3 linked regions of the Homo sapiens genome follow. The protein of the gene in region 3 interacts with the protein of the main gene of each other region in a biochemical or structural test. Each region holds a gene or a part of one and is shown on either strand. Other genes may lie near its edges.

What was found.
Region 1: the proteins of COPB2 (region 3) and RGS4 form a complex in vitro, tested with the Homo sapiens proteins (one study listed by BioGRID).
Region 2: the proteins of COPB2 (region 3) and COPG1 form a complex in vitro, tested with the Homo sapiens proteins (one study listed by BioGRID).

What each region holds. Positions count from the first base shown.
Region 1 is NC_000001.11:163,071,551-163,077,553, reverse strand, and holds the end of RGS4 (regulator of G-protein signaling 4), read right to left. Parts: intron 5,650-6,003; exon of another isoform or gene 5,411-5,649; intron 5,160-5,410; coding exon 5,055-5,159; intron 4,750-5,054; coding exon 4,688-4,749; intron 4,557-4,687; exon of another isoform or gene 4,277-4,556; intron 4,177-4,276; exon of another isoform or gene 4,099-4,176; coding exon 3,932-4,098; intron 3,234-3,931; coding exon 2,994-3,233; 3' UTR 752-2,993; downstream 1-751. UniProt on the Homo sapiens protein: Inhibits signal transduction by increasing the GTPase activity of G protein alpha subunits thereby driving them into their inactive GDP-bound form. Activity on G(z)-alpha is inhibited by phosphorylation of the G-protein.
Region 2 is NC_000003.12:129,272,686-129,278,414, reverse strand, and holds the end of COPG1 (coatomer subunit gamma-1), read right to left. Parts: intron 5,609-5,729; coding exon 5,511-5,608; intron 3,578-5,510; coding exon 3,439-3,577; intron 3,222-3,438; coding exon 3,123-3,221; intron 1,122-3,122; coding exon 991-1,121; 3' UTR 642-990; downstream 1-641. UniProt on the Homo sapiens protein: The coatomer is a cytosolic protein complex that binds to dilysine motifs and reversibly associates with Golgi non-clathrin-coated vesicles, which further mediate biosynthetic protein transport from the ER, via the Golgi up to the trans Golgi network.
Region 3 is NC_000003.12:139,385,940-139,394,299, forward strand, and holds the start of COPB2 (coatomer subunit beta'), read right to left. Parts: upstream 3,709-8,360; 5' UTR 3,612-3,708; coding exon 3,609-3,611; exon of another isoform or gene 3,530-3,608; intron 2,426-3,529; exon of another isoform or gene 2,340-2,425; intron 1-2,339. UniProt on the Homo sapiens protein: The coatomer is a cytosolic protein complex that binds to dilysine motifs and reversibly associates with Golgi non-clathrin-coated vesicles, which further mediate biosynthetic protein transport from the ER, via the Golgi up to the trans Golgi network.

The sequences.
Region 1 (6,003 bases), on a different chromosome or scaffold from region 3:
TACAGTCCCAGTGAGAGTCTGACACATCTATAGTATAAGAGAAGAATGATAGTTTTGAGGGGAGATTCTGAGAGTTTCCCCTCAAAGCACACAAAATTTAGATTCCTCTCTGAATTTTTTTCTTAAAAGATGGTTCGGTCCATAGTTTTTACCAGATCCGTAAATGGATCTATTTCTCAAAAGTGTTGAAGATCATCTATCCTTAACACCTTGTAACTACTACTCTTACAATGGGAAAGAAGGGTCAGGAAATGGGAGTCTCATGACATAATAGACACAGCACAGGGCCTATTACTGAGGATGTGAACATTTTATGACCTCTTTTCCAGGAAAGAGAATTAACAAAAGGGAGGGAAGGATTTTTGAAGTTTGGGTAAGAATCTATAGCTCCTTTCAACTCTCTCAATTTCCCACTGCTCTATCATCTCTCAAACAGGCGGGTAACTGGAAATAAAAGAATGGCTCTGGAAGGTGAACTCTATCCCTTGAAAATTGATTGAGAATCTGCAAGCAAATCACTTAATCTGTTTTGCAGTCTCTGAAGCTAAGATTGCCTTGGTTCTATGAGTAGAGCCAAGCAGAGCAGTGGCATGAACTAAAGAATAAACAATATTCAGTTTGTACTTTCTTTCCCAGAGTTCACTGGCACAGGAGGGATTAAAGACTCAGTATGAGTATTTTTCTAAAGTCACCCTACACCCTGATGTTTCTCATAGCATGTCTCTGGATCATTAATGTGTTTCCAAGCAAATAGTTTCATATGGAGCGTTTATTTACCCTTATTATTAAGATGCGTGTGTTTCACTGGAAGCATTAGCTTTGAGGCCTATCAAGCACATGATAGAAACAGGCATGCAAAAGGAAGGAGTATTCTGTCCAGGGAGCATGAGCAGGCAAGCTCACCATTGGAAATAGTGATGAAATAACAGGGAAATACAACTGAAAAACACACTCAAAAATGTATTACATAAAATAATTTACTTCTCATTCAGCGTGACCTTCCAGACCTATTAGTAAGACAGCAGTCTGTGAGTTCAGATACAATCTGAAAGTCATGACAATTATAATAGGGCAAGACCAATAAAGTTACACATTTGAAGTCAACTAGAGACAAAATTGTGGAACTGTGTATAACAGAAAATGACACTGATGAGGAACTCCAGGGATATTAAGGGCAAGATTGCCAGAGAGACAAGAAGGGTACAATTAGAAAACCTGCATCTTTAATACAGTGAGATTTGTATGCATACACTCTGGTGTCTTCATTTTGCAGCCCATTATATTGGCTTAAAAGCCAGAAAGGTGCTCATGCATGTAATTTATACTGGAGCAACGAATGCAGTGTATGTGGACGCGTGTGTGTGCACTTTGAAAGGCAGTAGTTTTAGAAGAATGAGAAGAAAATTACTTCCTGGGCATTCATTAATAATTCAGGTGATATCCTGTACCTCCATTTATAAAACAATATAATAATAATAACACGTACAAAATAACATCATAAATAACATAAATGAGAAGTTTTCAAGTATTTCAATGTGCCTTGAAAAGTTTCAAACAGTAATTCTCACAATTGGTTAGACAATCATTTTTTTTTTCTTTTCTTTTCCTCTCATTTAGTCTCAGAGCCTAAAAAGAAATGCCTCCAGTCTCTGTTAGCCCCGATGTTTGGAATGAAATTAACAAGATTCTACCTTAAAAGAGAAAACTTATGTGGGCTTTTCAAATTGTGAAAATTTGTTCCCTCTTATAAAATATAATCTTTCCCCTGCTGCTGGTTTATAAATATAGGCATATAGCCCAGAGCCATTATAAAGAAAAAACAACCAACCACAATAAACTAAGGAGCCTCATCTGATGGCTAAGGTTCTCAGGAAAAAATGAGAAGAGCACCTTGATCAGGAAAGGAAAAAAGGATAGAGGATAAAAACAGTAACCTTTAACTTCTATGCCCTCACTCAGCCAGTAACTTACGGCAGGTGTTGCTGGCAAGGCCTTAGCTGTATTTCTTCATTAAGTTGAACATCCTGTCTGCCAACTCCATACCAACCCAGCTGCTAATAAGCATGCCCTGAGCACCCAGGAAAAGAAGGGAAGGCTGGCAGCTTAGGAGCTCAAAAGTGCCATCAGAGAAAACCAGCTCAAGGGAGCTAAGGTATTTGCTCCTTAGAATAGTGCTCAAGGTGGAGGCTGTCAGTGGTCAAATCAAGCATGAAGTTCCTTGGATGCTTCTCCAGCAAGATCCATGGAATTTTACAAAACCAACTTTCCACAGGTTAGCATTTCTTTCTTAGCCTACATGGCAGTTAGTTCATTTTGCCCTGTTCAAATGTAGTATGAAAGAACAGAGATCAAAACACCCATGTAAGTACATACACATACTCTAGTTATGAGCACCTAGGGTCTTTCCCATCACTCTTGCAAAAGTGTGTGTGTGTGTGTGTGTGTGTGTGTATACATACACTCACACATACATATGTATACACAGACATCTATATACAGAAATAATGTATATGTGTGTCTAATGTATATATAATATATACACATAGACATACACACAAGCACATATCATAGCTCAACCTCATCTAAACATCTAGAGTCTGGAGAACGTGCTGGCCAACAGAATACATGTGCATGTGGATGTCATGTGACATGCACTAACCAACCATCCCGAGGTAAAACTGTTGGGAGGAGGAAACTGCCAACAATCTTTGAAAATCCAGACCTACCAGGCCATTATTTAGATATTTGCTCCCATGGAACCCTCAAAGAAACTTAGGAAAATTGGACTGGAATGGGGTCCCACCCTGATGAACACTCAAACACCAAAAGCTATATCTAGTTTATGCGTAGAAGTGACTCACACATGGCAGGCAGCATGAATATTAGGCTACAATGTGGATAAAGCACTGGAGCTTAATACAGATCAATATTTGGCCTCAGGTTTTCCAGAGCATAGAGTCTTGGCATTTCATCCCTCTGCCTTCAGGTGAGAATTAGGCACACTGAGGGACCAGGGAAGCACAGTCTGCTGAACTCTTGGCTCCTTTCTGCTTTTCTGCCCCACAGCTGGACGGGTTGACCAAATCAAGATAGAATCGAGACTTGAGGAAGCGGCGGTAGGAATCCTTCTCCATCAGGTTGAAAATCTTCTTCTGGGCCTCATCAAAGCAGGTTATTGTAGGCTCTAGCATGTTCCGGCTTGTCTCTTCCCTGGTGCAAGAATCCAGGTTCACCTGAGGGGCAAAGGCCAAGGCTTCATTAGACCTATATCCCTGTTGAGGATGCAAGCCTGTATGCTTTGTAGTGACTTGTAAGTGGCAGTGCACCCTCTGTATTTCAGAAGCAAAAAACAAAAGTGACATTGGGGTCCTCCTTGGCACATGTGAGAGAGTATGAAAGGTTCAGAATGAACCTTTCTGCTTTAGAGAGAGCAGGGCAAGATCTTCTGTTCTGTCTAACAAATTGGGGAGATTCATCAGAAAAATTCATGCAGGGAGGTTATGGTAAGCCACATGGATAAAAGAGATTTTTTAAAAAACTGATTTATTTGGGGTTGTCAAGATTATGATAGTCAGCTCCACTATTCTAGGAACCTTCACTAAGATCCAGAGAGTTCTCTGCCATAAAAGCTTACCTTTTTGGTCAGGTTGGCTAATGGGTAGAAGGAATAGATAGAAAGTTGGGTAGAGGGAATAGGTTCTAGTGTTTGATAGCACATTAGGGTGATATAGTTATCAATAGTTTATTGTATATTTTAAGATAGCTAGAAGAGGAGATTTGGAATGTTCTCAACACGTAGAAATAATAAATGTTTGAGATATGTATATAGCAATTGCCCTGATTTGATTGTTATCACATTGTATGCATGTATCAAAATATCACACATACTCCATAAATACGTACAATTTTTATGTATCCATAAAAAACCTACCTCTTTGGTTGCCTGGACTGAGATGAATTCATTATAGATCTTTTTGGCCTTGGGACTTAGTTTAGATGGTGATTTGATTTTCTTGTACTCTTCACAGCTGATCCAGAAGTCAATATTCTCCTCACTATATTCAGACTTCAAGAAAGCTTTGAAAGCTGCCAGCCCACCTATGATACAGGAGAAAGGACCACAGTTGTCATCACACTGGTTGGCCTCTTGGATATGCTATTTCACATAAAGCTGAGGTACTTGGGGGATAAAGCATGGATTCAAGCAATCCCTTTTTCCCCTGCTTTTTTCAAGTCACCTGGAGTCAGGTAACCCTAATCTGTGTTTGATATCCAGTGGTTCCCAGTTCTACCTAATGATTCTTACTCAAGTTGGAAGCCTCTTTCAAGGAAGTATTTTGCTTCTGAAATGCCTATGCAGCTATCAATTACCAAGGTCAATTTGGGAAAGAGAAACTGAGATTGATTTTGCAAGAAGGTATTGATATTTATCATTTTTTTTCTCTCTTCCGTTTTTCCTTGTGATGAGAGAGATGGTTTTCCACATGGTTCCTGCATAAACTTTTCATTGTATATCACAAAGCTCTAGGGCATATTAAAATTTTAAACAGACTGAATTTAAGACCTAAAGAGTCTCCTGAGTCTGAACATCAGAAAGAAGCCAGGCCTTGCTGCAGTTTCTATTAGACCAGCATAATATAACTTGTCTTATCCAGAGTACCTCATCCCAGGTTGCTGTCAGACTTACATTCATGACTAATCAGGTTTTCCAGTGATTCAGCCCATTTCTTGACTTCCTCTTGGCTCACTCTAGAAAAAATAGAGAGAAACAGAATAATTGGAATGCCATGGTAAAAAAATTGGGGCAAGAAATCTAAGATCCTGAATGAAGGCAAAGATTTTATTTTCCATCGTTATGACAAAATATGTTATTGATGAGGGCAGTTTTTCACTAAATGTATAGAAATTTCAAATGTAGTTATGATCTCCATGAAAATGGAGGCTATCTTGATCCAAATCTGGCTTAACTAGGAGCACAAGTTCCTTCTCACAGAACATCCCCATCATCAGATAGTTAATACTAAGTACATCTTCACCAAGGCCTTTTCTCTTACCTCTGGCAAATAACCACTTTGTCCTTCTTGTTGTGGGAAGAATTGTGTTCACAGGAATCAGATTTTTGCAGCAGGAAACCTAGCCGATGTTTCATATCTTTTGCACTGCACAGAAGAGAAAAAAATGAATAAATAGTAATAACCAGCTTTCTTTAAAAGATACCTAATGGTAGAGCTTGAAGAGTCCATTACTAGTCTATGGCTCAGAGACAGTTTAGGGAACGGGAGTTGGAGTTGGCATGACCTCTGAGGAAAACAAGATTCCTCTTGGTTCCCTATGACTTGCTACAAAACCTTGAGGCAGTCATAACACCATTTCCTTCATCCACAACTGGAATTCTGACCCTTCAGTTTACCTCAGAAACCTGAGAAGCCTTTATATGCCCGTCATTTTGACCAACCGAATATCTTTGGTATCTTCAACAGAACCTGAATCACTGAACACATGAGTGATCTCTGAGTAATTTTTAGGAATCAGAAAGCAGTAGCGGCAAAAGATGCACATCCTTGCTGCACGCCACCTTCTGGCAGGTGATTGCTATTTCCATCTGTTCCCCTGCTGGCAGAGGGAACTGTAGAAGCACCTCGGGAAAGTAAAAGTCTATTCAGTTCCAGCCATGTATGTTGGGGGGGGGGGGGGGGGGCAAGCAGTTCCTGCTGTGAGGTATAGAGGGAGAATACACTGAGGTGCACAGTTCCAGCAGAGGGAAATGGAGCATGGGATGGCGAAAACAAATGCCCAAGCTGAAACCTCAGCTTCTTGGGGCTTCTTTCTAGACAATATCTGCTGCTGCTGCTTTCCTTCTTAATAGCTACTTTAAAGGACATACACACTCTAAAGGGCATTTGAGGCTTAACAGCTATTAGGAGAAGCAGGCTAGAGTCATCACTGAGCTTCCAGTTTATTGCCACCATTTAATAGGTAGCCAGGGCACATTAGAGCTCCTGA
Region 2 (5,729 bases), about 10 Mb from region 3:
GAAGAACTTCCAGGAATCGCGCACTTCGCCCTCAAACATTGGTGGGCACTAGAATAAGCCTTTCCTGCCCCAGCCCCTCAGCTGAATCTCTAAGGGTGAGGCCCAGATTTTTAAAACAGCCCTTTCGGGTGTACTTTGGCCTCAAAGTTGGTAAAATAGCCTGGCTTGAGTTTAAAAGCCTGCTCCCCTTGGGACCTAAACCGGAGATTCTTCATCTGCAACCAACAGAGAATGCTCTAGAGGGCTGTTCGCCTATGCTGATTCGCTGAACTGAACAGGGAGCAGAAACCCCAGGGCACACTCCATGTAAGACCAGATGCTGGAACGATCAGACACAGGACCCAAGCCCTTTGGAGCCTCCATTTATCGACTATCAAAGGAGGATGCGTTGTGAAGAAGCACGAACGGGAGGGAGTGTGAACTCTGCCTGTTAGCTGATTCACTCAACCACCCTCTACCGCTCCCACCCCTGGGCTTGGTGCTGGGACAGCGATGACGGGGAGAGGGTCCTGCCTCACAGGACTACAACAGCCAAAGGGCTGTGGGTGCAAGGGGGACAGGGCAGGTGTTCTGCCTCTTTAGGGGAGGCCTTGAAGGGGAAGGTGGAGCCCTGAAGCATGAGTCTGCAGAAGTAGCAATCATTCAATAAATACATGCTGATTTATTACAGGGATAAGATGGTTTCTTGGGGGATAGATTCAAGAGGAGTTGAGAATGTTTTATTCATTTACAATGTCCCTTTCCTGGAAGGGTGGACAGCAAGATTTAGGACAAGCTAAAATCATCCCCTATTTAAAAAAAAAAAAAAAAAAAGTCACCAGCAAGTAGTCCCGGGTGGGAGGTGGGAGCAGAATAAAAAAAAATCTGCAATGATTCCTAATTGTTTTTCAATACAGAAGCTTGGGAAGGGGTTTCTGCCAGTTTCATGAGGAAGGCACAACTTCCAGGTAGTGTTGGGGAAGGGTATGAGGTCCTATGCAGGCTGGCCTCTTATCCCACAGATGCCAAGATGATGTCTACTGGCAGCTCCTCCAAACTTCTGGCTGTCACCTGCATTGTCACTGTGTCCAAAAGCAGCAGCCGGGAGCGCACCAGGATGTCATGACCACCCCGGAACACACCTAGAAGGGAAGAGAGAAGTACAGATATATACAGCAGAAGGGACTGTACAGGGCAGGCTAAGGATGGCATTTGCAGCAACCCATGAAGGCAGCTCTGGTGTAGTGAAACGGGCAGGAGAGCTGGGCTGAAATCCCTGAGTGAGGGATTTCACTGTGAAAGTCACTGTCTCTCAGCCAGGCGCGGTGGCTCACGCTTGTAATTCCAGCACTTTGGGAGGCTGAGGTGGGCAGATCATGAGGTCAGGAATTCGAGACCAGCCTGGCCAACACAGTGAAACCCCATCTCTACTAAAAATACGAAAATTAGCTGGGCATGGTGGTGGACGCCTGTAATCCCAGCTACTCGGGAGGCTGAAGCAGGAGAATCGCTTGAACCCGGGAGGCGGAGGTTGCAGCGAGCAGAGATTGTGCCACTGCATGCCAGCCTGGGTGACAGAGCTAGACTCCGTCTCAAAAAAAAAAAAAAAAAAGAAAGTCACTGTCTCTCAGGACTTCAGTATCCTCAACTACAAAGTGGCAGGGATGATAATACCATATTTCAGGCTTCTGCTAAGTTCAAATGAACTGATGGACATAAAAGGCTTATATCTCATGTCACAGAGGCTCTTGCACGTTGACTGAATCTGAGAGCACAAATGAAGGGGACAGCCCCACCACGAGAAAACCACAGGGCAGGTGTCTGCAAGACCCAGGGGACTAGGTTGTTTCAATGTGGCTACAAACTGTCAGCTGTAGGCAGGGTACTGAAGCAGAGCCTCCTTTCAACCCTGTTTATAAACACTCAGCCAAAAAAAATCATCCCATTTCCTTTTGTTAACTGTTTTAGGTATGATAATTGTATTGTCCTTTAAAAAAGGGAAGGGGTCATTCTCTCTTAGAGAAACATACAGATACAGGATTTACATATAAAATGCTATTTCTGGAGTTTGCTAGTAAATAATCTGGGAAGGAGAATGAGTGTGGGTACACTCAGCCAACCCTGTAGAAAATAAGACAAAGGATATGAAGACAATGATCAGAAAAGGAAATACAAATGCCTCAACATTTAAGAAGATACTTAACTTCATTGAAAATACAAAAACTACACTAAGATATCATTGTCCACACAGACTGGAAAAGATCATAAAGTGTGGTAACATATTATGTTGTCCACAGTGTAGGAAGAAAGGTATACAATTCTATGGAAGGCAACTTGGAGTTATTTATCAAGATGAGAAACACAAATCACTTTGAACTGGTGATGCCTTGGAAAATTTATCCTACAGATATTCTCAGTGTACACATGCAAAGTAAACTGTGTGTGTGTGTGTGTGTGTGTGTGTACACGATTATTTACTGTAACATCTGTAATAGCAAGAGATTGAAATCAAACTAAATGTTCATCAGTAGTGGCTGTTCCATAGAATATGTGGTGCATCCACACAATGGAATACTAAGCAACTATAAAAAAAATGAGGATTCAGTTTGGGATGAAAAAAGTTCTGGAGATGGATGGTGGTCATAGTTTTACAATAGTGTGAATGTACTTAATGCCGCTGAACCATACACTTGAAAATGGTCGAAATGGTGAATTTTATGTATATTTTACCACAATTAAAAGAAAAAGAATGAGGAAGCTCTACATATTGACGGGGAAGATCTCTAAGATGCAATGTAAAGTGAAAAGCAAATCGGAGGACAATATATATACCATTTGTACATAAACATTTGAGTTAAAAAAAGGAAATGCGTTCCTATTAGCTTTTATAGCCATAAAATAACCGCAAGGTTATACAAGTATTGTTTGTAATAGTAACACTGGTCGCTTCTCGGAAGGGAATCTGAATGGCTGGCAGCCAAGGTAGGGAGGAAACATTTCGCTGCAGATTATTTTATACTTTGTGAATTTTAAATGCTGTGAATTTTGACTCCCCATATTTACAGTGGAGTCCTTAGCCCAGGATCCAGTGGCATCCAGGCTGTAAGCTATCCAGGCCCTCCCCATCTAGAAATGCCACTTACCAGCCAGGAGCAACGTGTGGGTGTTCTTGTTATCCGGCACTTTGTCTGACCTCTCACAAGGGTGCATTCCCAAGAACTTCACAATATTACCCACAGCCTCTGTAATGAGAAATCCCAATATTGTTAAGCCATCTTATCTGCCCTTTGTGCCACCACCACTCCCCCATGTTCTGAAGGGCTTTTAATGAAGTGGCATTTGACATATGTGCTCCAGACATGGCCCTGGATCCTTGGAGAGAAAAGGGATGAGCACTTCAATAGTAGCCAAAGATCTTGAACAGTAATTAGGCCAGAGATGGCATTCCCAGGATTTTACCTTCAAGTGTCTTGATGGTAGACAAGGTGAACGTTTCCTCCTTCTCAAATTCATCCCCTACCTCATCCCAGGCTGCTTCGAAGTTCAGTTTCATGACCTTTTGAATGTGATCAGCTACAGTAACTTCCAGATCTTCCAGCTGGAGAGATGGAGGTAGAAATCAGGCACCCATCTACACACCTACGGGCCTCTGCTCTGAACTCATCCACACATCCCTTCCTGCAACTCTTTCCACAGGTGCTTGCTCGGCACTGAGGACTGTGCTAGACTCTGGGGACATAGAGCAACTTGACCAGGTACCTATCCTTGAGGTGCCCAAAGGCAAATGGTATCCCTTCAACAGAAAACGCCCTAATCCCAAGTACCAATCTACTAATTCAGCCTAGAGCCGCCTGCTGTGAGATCACATCTCTTCTAAGCCTGCCTAGTGTCAGTGCTTCCAGGACCTGGCATGCAGGGAATTACATAGCATTCTCAGAGGTCTGCTTCCTATGCCTGTCCCTCCTAGGGGATGATGAGCTCTTCAGGACCAGCAGCTGTTTCTAGTTCAGCAGAAACTAGCAGAAACCTCCTACCCCAGCTGTGTCCTCTGGATTTGACAGATCCTGAATCTCTATCTCCATTTCAGCTGTGTCTTCCCTGAACTTGACACATAATACTCCCACTGAGTCTACATGAAGGTTCCCCATTCATTCTCCCATCAGATTTTCACTGAGGCCCTACTCCTGTGGATGTTTACAGTGTATATAAATACAACTTAGACCCAGCTCTCTCTCTCTTTTTTTTTTTTCTTCATCTCTGGATGGGCTCAAACAGACCCAGCTCTCTCAAGGAGCTCACTTGGTCTTAGAGCAGCTCCTGCCTCGGGGTCATTTCCAGCTCAAGGAAGGTCCATCCATCCTCAACTGTGACTCTAGGATGACACAATGGCGAATGTCAGTTGTATTCCACTGTGACTGTCCCTCTAGTCAGGAGGAGTTCTAACAGTCCCCATCCACAGGCTGAGCATAATGGTCTGCACTCAGATGGCCCTGAGCCACTGCCCCAAAGTCAGACCTCAGAAGGATCCTGTACTTAGTTCCACCGAGCTAAGATAGGAGAATTTAGAAGGGCTATTCCAGTGCATGAAAGGACTGCCCAGCACAGCAAACAGGTCAAATTTATCCAGAAAGCATTTGACAAGAGGAATCAAAATGTCTTAAAATCATGCTTACCCTTTGACCCAACTATTCTCCTTCTAGGAATCTATCCTAAAGAAATAATCTAAAATGCAGATAAAAATTTGTATCTAAAGGGATATTTAATGCAGCAATATAAATAGTGAAAATATGGAAACCCAAATGCCCAACATTAAAGGAGTGAAAAGTCAATCAAGTTTTGACATAGTATATAACAGTATTTTAAATCCACTAAAAAAATTGTGTTTATGAAGTATTTGTAATGATACTGGAAAATACACTATGGTTTTAAAATAGCAAGGTCTACACTGTAAGAATGATTTCAATTATACCACTTCCCCCCAAAAATAACTCTAAGGATTATGAGTAATGTTTTCCTGTTGTTCATACTTTGTTTTGAATTTTGTTTTTGTATTTCCCAAGTTTTCTTTTTACACATGAACATGTATTTCCATAAGTTTAAAAAGTTATTTTAGGCCGGGCGCGGTGGCTCACGCCTGTAATCCCAACACTTTGGGAGGCCAAGGTAGGTGGATCACCTGAGGTGAGGAGATCGCGACCAGCCTAGCCAACATGGTGAAACCCTATCTCTACCAAAAATACAAAAAATTTGGCAGGCATGGTGGTGGGCGCCTGTAATCCCAGCTACTTGGGAGGCTGAGGCAAGAGAATCGCTTGGACCAGGGAGACAGAGGTTGCAGTGAGCCGAGATCGCGCCACTGCACTCCAGCCTGGGTAACAAAAGAGAAACTTCATCTCAAAAAATAAAAATAAAAAAATAAAATTTTAAAGAGCTAAAAAGCCAAAAACAGCTCCAGTCTCACTGTCAGTTCCTGAAGGGAGTTGCTTTGCAGCCTCAGCACAAAACTGAGCTTCCTGACACCAGGATCTTACCACATACTCATCCTCATAGCCTTCGTCATCAGTCTCCCCAGTGGTGGGATCACAGTCCTTGACAGTGAACTTCATCATGCAGCTGAATGTGCAGGCCACTGTGGGGAAGAGAGGCTGGGTAGTTAGGATGTCCCCAGCCTGCAGGGGATGGGCTCCTCCTGCAGGGGACAAGCAGGCAGGGGTCACAGCCTGCTTTCTAGGCCCCTGCTATGTTATTAG
Region 3 (8,360 bases):
CTTTATTGCTGTGATCTTCTATGATGATCATGAATGGGACAGAAATTTAAGGTTACTTTTGAATATAAAAAGAAGATCTAGCAGAGACAACTTCCTGAGACAAAACACCTCACAATGCTTTTACTCATCTTTTTTGGGGATTTTTATCAAATTTGGGTCATTGACTACTTCAAGTCTTGTTCTACCCACGCCTCCTTCATTTTCAGCAACAACCTTTACCTCTTACTTTAAAAGATCAGAGTTCTCTGGCTCTTCTCTTCAATCTCCTCAAAAATGTTTTCACTGTCATCAGTCCCTTCCTCTCTCCAATTTTCTACTTTCTTGTTTTTTTTTTTGAGACAGAGTCTTGCTCTGTCGCCCAGACTGGAGGGCAGTGGCGTGATCTCGGCTCACTGCAACCTCCACCTCCCAGGTTCAAGGGATTCTGCCTCAGCCTCCCGAGTAGCTGGGGACTACAGGTGCCTGCCACCATGTCCAGCTAATTTTTGTATTTTTAGAGACAGGGTTTCACCATATTGGCCAGGCTGGTCTCGAACTCCTCTCCTGACCTTGTGATCCACCCACCTCGGTCTCCCAGCTCCAATTTTCCACTTTCAAATCATCATCTTAACATTCCTTGCTAGTTCCCAAAATCAAGGCTTTTTACTTCATTTCTGAATTCTGCCCCATAAATTACTATTACAAATTTTAACTTCTTTTTAAATCTCTATGGAGTCAACAGGTATGAAGAGTCTATTATGTACCAGGCAGGAACCATGGTGAGGGTTTTCATATAAGCCAGCATGTCTCACAATTTTCCTCCAGTAATGAGGAAATTGGACACTTACAAATTGTGAACATTTTACTTTAAAATATTTTAAATTATTGATTATTGAGTAAAAGTGATGCTCCATAAGTTGGGCCAATGAACTCTGAGCAACCCCAGTAAACCTCTACATACTCCCAAAGCACAAATCTCAGTTTAAAAAAGAACAGGCAGCCAGGCGTGGTGACTCATGCCTGTAATCTCAGTACTTTGGGAAGCTGAGGCGGGAGGATCACCTGAAGTCAGGAGTTTGAGACCAGCCTGGCCAACATGGTGAAACCCCGTCTCTACTAAAAATACAAAAAAAAAAAAAAAAATTAGTTGGACGTGGTGGCACGCGCCTGCAGTCCCAGCTACTCGGCAGGCTGAGGCTGCAGAATCACTTGAATCTGGGAGGTGGAGGTTGCAGTGAGCCACGATTGCACCACTGCACTCCAGCCTGGGCGACAGAGTGAGATTCTGTCAAGAAAGAAAGAAAGAAAGAAAGAAGGAAAGAAGGAAGTAAGGAAGGAAAGAAAAGAAAAAGAAAAGAAAGAAAAGAAAGAAAGAACGAACAGGCAAGGGTTCTTGTGATAATATTTCTCCCAACAGTTAAGTGACTATTTTGAATAAGACAATGTACTAGGTACTTTGGGACAAAGATGATTAGGATGCTCACACTGTATCCTCAACTTTAAATATATCCCTCCACCTTCCAAAAGCTGGATGCATTTAGGACTCAGCTTAAATGCCACTGCCACCAGTAAGACCTTTCTAGTTACCCTAGCCTGAAGCATTCTTTCCTAGGGAATCCTATAGGATTTCATTTTAACTGTTCATGGTACACTTGTGTACACATCTTTTCTTGCTTTCTAGAGTAGATCCTCCTTAAAGCCAGGGTCATTGCTTATACATGTCTTTATCTCCAGATCACCTTATATATTTGAGTATGGGGGTTTAAGAACAGATACCATAACACAAGACTAGAAAGCCATGATGGATTTAAATTTCAGTTCCACCACTCATTTCAGATGTGCAATAGTGGGCAAATTTACTTAACCTCTTTCAAGTTTGACTTATGTAAAACAGGAATATTATTATTATCTACCTCTTAGTGCTGTAAGAATTAAATTCAGAGTTAGCCAGTTAGAGCAGTGCCTGACCTACAGTAACCACTTCACAAACATATAACTCTATCTCCCAGCTGCTGTGAGAATTAGGCAGCCATGTTTAGCAAAGTGCATGGCAGACACTAAATATTCTATGGTAAATGTACAAATGAATGAATTCACGTTTTGTATTTTCCACAAAGGATTTAAAATATATAAAGAATGAAGGCAATATTTCATTATAGAAATACACTGGTAAATGTAAAGACGGCAAAAGAAAATGAAATTAGGCAGATCCAAGAGCCTTTTCCAAAAACGTCCATTACTGCAACCACAGCAGACCCAAACTACATCAGGTAGTTAGTAATACGAAGTGCTCTAATTAAGAGGCTTGAGGTCTTGTTCAGGGACTGTAACCTGGGTGCCCAAGAAAGTCCACGGATAGTGCTAGCTTCGGCAGCACATAGAGAGGAGATTAGCGTGGCCCCTGCGCAAGTATGACACGCAAATCCGTGAAGCGTTCCATATTTTTTATAAAACAAATTAAAAAAAAAAAGAAGGTCCATGGATTGTGGGGGGGGGTGTCTGTGAATGAATGCACTGAATTTTATGCAAAAATGTTTGTTTCTCTGTGCATTTTCCCTGGGAGTATTCCTAACTTTTTCCTAGTTCCAACTTTGCCACAATTAACCTTGTAGAAACATAATTTAAAAAAATTTTTTAACTTAAGATGAGGGACTTAATCCCTAGCGTCTTCAAGCTCCAAAATGTTTGATTCTGTGCTTCATAACAAGTTTTTTTTTTTTTTTTTTTGAGACGGAGTCTTGCTCTGTCCCAGGCTGGAGTGCAGTGGTGCGACCTCGGCTCACTGCAGCCTCTGCCTCCCGGGTTCAAGCGATTCTCCTGCCTCAGCCTCCTGAGTAGCTGGGACTACAGGGGCCCGCCACCACGCCCGGCTAATTTCTTTTTTTTTTTTTTGCATTTTCAATAGAGACGGAAGATATTCTTATACTATCGTTTTCTTTCCTTATTATTATAACACTCTTGTGCAAACTAGTCTAGGGCGTTTTTTAGGGTTACGGTGATAATAACAAAGTGCTCTAACAATTACTATTCTTACCAGCCACTGGATTTGCAAATGCATAAAAGCACACCAGCCAGTGTTATAAACAGCACCCCCTTCCTCCCAACCCTTCTTCTCCCCTTAGAAACCTAACAGCTGAGATATCAAAGCATTTGAAATTCCATTTTTGACTCCATATACATTTGTTTTTGGCTTCTTTGCTTGTTTATAGTTTGTAGCCAGCACACACTATCCCCAGAATAAGCCCAACAGGAGTGTAGATTAACTACCACCGTTTTAAAGGCAAACTTTAGTTTTACCAAAGCCTCCTACGGAGTTCAACACATTCGGCTTCTGTGTTTCCCTACACCACCGATCCCGCTGCAGACTGCAGGAGCTCTGGCAAGCGCCACAAGCGCCAGGGGAGACAAAACCCCTCACTAGCAGGCTTTGCCTCCCCAAATCACCCCGGTCCCCTAGGCCCCACCGCCTTCTCCCTTCCTGGAATCAAACGACCAAGACCCCGCAAGGCCTGAGGCGGCGGCCGCAGCGGGAGCCCAGACCACTGCTTACCGCGGCCCTCAGTCCAGAAGCTCCAGGAATCGGCCGTAACCTATGGGACCCCGCTCCCTTCTACGGGATCTGGACCTACCATGGCTGCGTCGGTCCAATCCCGGGAACCCTCGTTTGTTACCGGCTACTCAGGCCTTGAGATAAACCCACCGATCCACTGACCGTCAGACTGACTGACGTGGAACTTCCGGGAGCCGATTCTCGCGATAGTCAGAGGCCAGGGCCGGAGCGCCTGCGCAAACTGCGCGCAGGGCCGTCGTTTCCCAAGCCCCGCCCCAGTTTCCTAGGCAACGTGGCCTTCCAGACCGCTGGTAGTGGACTTGAGGCTGTCGGGAAGGAGGGGTGTGGCCTAGACCACTAAGGGCCGTGACGTGGTGCCGCTGAGCTTGGACCCCGACCAGAAGATAGAGATTGAAACGATGAGGAAAACGAAGTGCCTAATCCCCGCTGGACGCTAACTGCAGGGCAAGCTCCCCAGTGTTGTAGTTGTGTTTCGGAGGCCGAGAACCGCTATCGGGCTTCCTCGGACTCTGGCCCTGGAGGGGGGAAACGGCGAGGGAGAAGGCGAAACGAGTCTCCAGTGTGTTCTTGGGGCCTGGTGCGAGGCCCAGAGAATTCTCTGCAGGCCTTTGCCCGGGCACTGATTAAGGCTGCGAAGAGACGCACCGGGCTGCGGGCTTAGTAGCTTCAGGCTTCTGAAGTCAGAGGGAGGGCTGAGAGCTTACACTTCTGGAGCTCCCCGGGAGACGGCAACTACCCAACCGTGTGGGTGTGTTTGTGTATGTGTCTTTTGTTGAGCTTCGGCTGGCTGTGTTATTCATTCAACAAATATTTATCGATCTTCGGCAGTGTGTCAGACATACCTTCTTCTCAAATCTTCACATCAAACCTGAATTATCTCCATTTAATGATGAGGAAACTCGGGCTCAAAGAAGTTAAGTGTTCTAGCCAAGACTGCATAGTAAGTGGCAGATAAAACCTCAAAGTTGGGCCGGGCGCGGTGGCTCACGCCTGTAATCCCAGCACTTTGGGAGGCCGAAACGGGTGGATCACCTGAGGTCAGGAGTTCGAGACCAGCCTGGCCAACATGGTGAAACCCCGTCTCTATTAAAAATACAAAATTAGCCTGGCGTGGTGGCGGGCGCCTGTAATCCAAGCTGTTCCAGAGGCTGACAGGAGAATCGCTTAGAACCCAGGAGGTGGAGGTTGCAGTGAGCTGAGATCGCGCCACTGCACTCCAGCCTGGGCAACAGAGCAAGACTCTGTCTCAAAACAAAACACCTCAAAGTTTGTGCTCTTTCTACTACATAAAAATATCTCTTCATTAATGTGGCTGAATTCTAAGGGCCTGTGCCATAGGGGTTACACTACACAATAAAGTTCGAGAACATTTGCCTGTCACACGCACTGCACATCTCCTGTATTTCCTTTTTTTTTTTTTTTTTAAGAAAACATGTGGACCATAGAAAACTTGCCCTCTGGTTACACGTACAAACGTGTATTTTTAACTTGAGAGAAATCTTAAAGTCTTTTCAGACCTCCAGATTTTCAGAAAGGCAAAAAGAAAAATTATGTATTTGTGTGTGTAGATAATGATAATCAGAGGGAGATGATTTTGCACGAAATTATTTGGCTTTAGTAGGAGCCTTGAGCTAATGTGACTCTCTTCATGGGCCTCAGTTTTCATCATCTTAAAAAAAATCCAGCTACATGGTTTCTAAAGATCCTTCCATTTTTTTTTTTTTTATGTTTCTGTGGCATTCAATAGTGGAAAAAAGAGTCTGGAACTGGAGTTTAGTGCCAGCAGTGTGATCTTATGTAAATTGAGACTAATAATTCTAGTAATTGCATACTTTGCTTACTCTATGGAGTGACTGAGGATCCTGAGTTGAAAAAATTATATGAACTATACCTAATTTGCTTGAATAGTGGAACTTTCAATATTTCTAACTCCTGAATACTCTTGCACTTGAGAGAGTATTTTTGGATTTGGCACAGTACTAAGTGATACAAAATAAAATGATGTATCTCTATTGTCAAGGGGCTCAGCTGGGAATGCTTAAATCTTTGTATACCACTGGGCCACCTAAGGGTCTACCTAGCTGGTGTTGCGGGCCTGAACCCTCAAGTGTCATTCTTACTTGGACTATATCTTTTCTCATGTTTTCCACTGCAATTAGCCAAAATTAAGTCCTGCAATTGTAGACTGTAAATTCACTCTTTTAACCATTACATACTGAATGTGTACTATATACAAAGCACTATACTAGGTGCTGCCTTAAGATATTACCCATAGAATTTGGTGTTGGATTTTGGTTGAAATAAATTTTAAAGAAATAAAATTCTTAAATAGGAACTAATACATAACATTAAATATACACGTGTATTTCACTAGGCGTTCGACTGTGGGTTTAAATTAAAATCTTTTGTTTACTTGGTTTAGAGGAGACTGGAAGGTTAGGAAAAATAACCGTTGGGAAGAAAAGAAATATAGACAAGCTTAGCAGATTGGTAAAGGGTTTCCCAAGAGGTTGACTGCAATCGATTAACAGATCTTAAAGTCTTACCTAGTCAATTTCTATAATAGCTATTTCAGCCCTGCCTTTTTGCAGCAGCTGGGAGAATTCCAAGTGGGAATTCAGGTTGCAGTGCCTCTGTAAGTACCCTATATACACTGTTCCCTTCCCACCCTATTCCTACCTCTTCATAAGAAGTTGAGGAAAATAATTCGTTGAGAAAGAGTCAGGGTTTTTTGTTTATTATTTTATTTTATTTGTATTTATTTATTTATCTTGAGATGGTGTCTCACATTGTCACCCAGGCTGGAGTGCAGTGGCGCCATCTCAGCTCACTGCAACCTCCACCTCCCGGGTTCAAGCGATTCCCCTGCCTCAGTCTCCCCAGTAGCTGGGACTACGGGTGCACGCCACCACGCCTGGCTGATTTTTGTAGTTTTAGAAGAGATGGGATTTCACCATGTTGGCCAGGCTGATCTTGAACTCCTGACCCCAGGTGATCTGCCTGCGTTGCCTCCCAAAGTGCTGGGATTACAGGCTTGAGCCACCACACCCAGCCTTGTTTATTATTTTTAAATATACATGTGTTATCACTTAGCTAAGTGGTAAGTACTAGCACGAATAGGAACCTAGTTTCTCCCTTCAAAGGGGTTACAATTTATAAGCAGGAAAGGTTATTTATGCACAAATAATTGAATACCAGGCAGAATATGAGTACCTTCTGAGAGAAGTACCAGTAAAATACTCTGAAGATAAAATATCCAGCTAGGGAGATAAGTTTCATAAAGGAGGTAGAATCTGAGGTGGACTTTGAGGTGAAGAGTATACGGCATGTTTGAGAACCAAAAAAGGTCCAATTTGTTTGGAGAATGGTATTCATTTAGAAGAGCAGTGAGGGAGAAGGTTGAAGAGGAAGCTTGGGGCTAGAACCTGAAGATTTTTAAATCGGGAGAAATTGAGCTTTGAGTCAAGCAGTTGGGACTTACTGGGCCAGATAGGAAACCTGTTTATATCTGTACTCTAGATGATTTGTCTTTTGTTGATGTGTATGACACACTAAAAGAAGTTGAAACAGACTATATAAGTTTGGTGGAAGTGAGTGTGGAAATAACAGTAATAAGGAAAAATTTTTATTAAATGCCCACTATGTACCTACCTGCCATTGGAATATGTACTTTGCATACTGCAATTCATAAAGTAATACTAAAAGATAGGCATTATTTTCTCCAATTTATAGATGAAAAACAGAGGCTTAAATTGATTAAGTAGTATACCTCATGCCACATTGCTCATGACTGACAGACCTGAGATATGAACCTAAGTTATATTTAATGATACTAACATCTTTTTTTACTGGATTGTAATTTCTCCTTTTTTCCCTGAGAAGCTAGAATCAACTGGATACACAAATGCGTTTGTTGAATTGAGGGAGTGGGAGGCATCCTATTGCTGATGTTTTTAATCTAATGAACCCAGAAGAATATCTTTAATCAGAGGAAGATGTGGAGCCAGTGAATGATAGTGGAGCCAATGAAGGAACAATCAGAGAAAGAGAATCAGGAAAGAAGAAAAAGTGAAAGAAAAAGAAGTGGAGTCAGTGTAGGAACAATCAGAATAAGAGACCCAGAATAACTTTATGTCACAGAAGGAAAAGAAAGGGAAAATGTGACTGGGTGACTAGCATCTTGATAGCTTTAGAGAATTTAAGGAGGCTTAGTATTTGCCAAAACTATTGCCAATGAAATAAATGATTATGAGGACACTATCAGCCTTCAAAAAAGTTGAGTAATGGTAGGGAAGGCAAGTTTACAAAGGGTTTAGAAATTATTGGATGATAAAAAAAGTAGAGGTCATCAGTATAAACTATTTTACCAAGCGATTAGTGAAGAAAGGCAAATGTTGATGTGAGAGGTGTCTCACTGTAAGTGGGTTGACTGTTCCTGCATTTAGGGCATGCTTGATTTAATTATGATAGGCTCCAAATGGATGCAGGCCACTAAATGGACCTTTGTAGTGTGAGTAGGAACTAGCCAGGTAAATGTCAAGAGAGTATATCTAGAGCATTTGACTTTTCCAGAGAGCTAAGAATAGTTCAGCATGCCTGGGCCAGAGAGTAAGAAGGGGGAGGATTGAGAAATGGTATTAGAAAGATAAATGAGATTCAGATTCTGAAGATCCATGATAGCCAGTTAAAGGAGTCTGGACTTTATCCTGTAGGCTCTGGGGAACCATTTAAGAATGTTAAGTAGGGTAATCTTCATGCTCCATTACTGATACATCATCACATGTCAGTTACTTTTCCTGTTAGAGGAAAT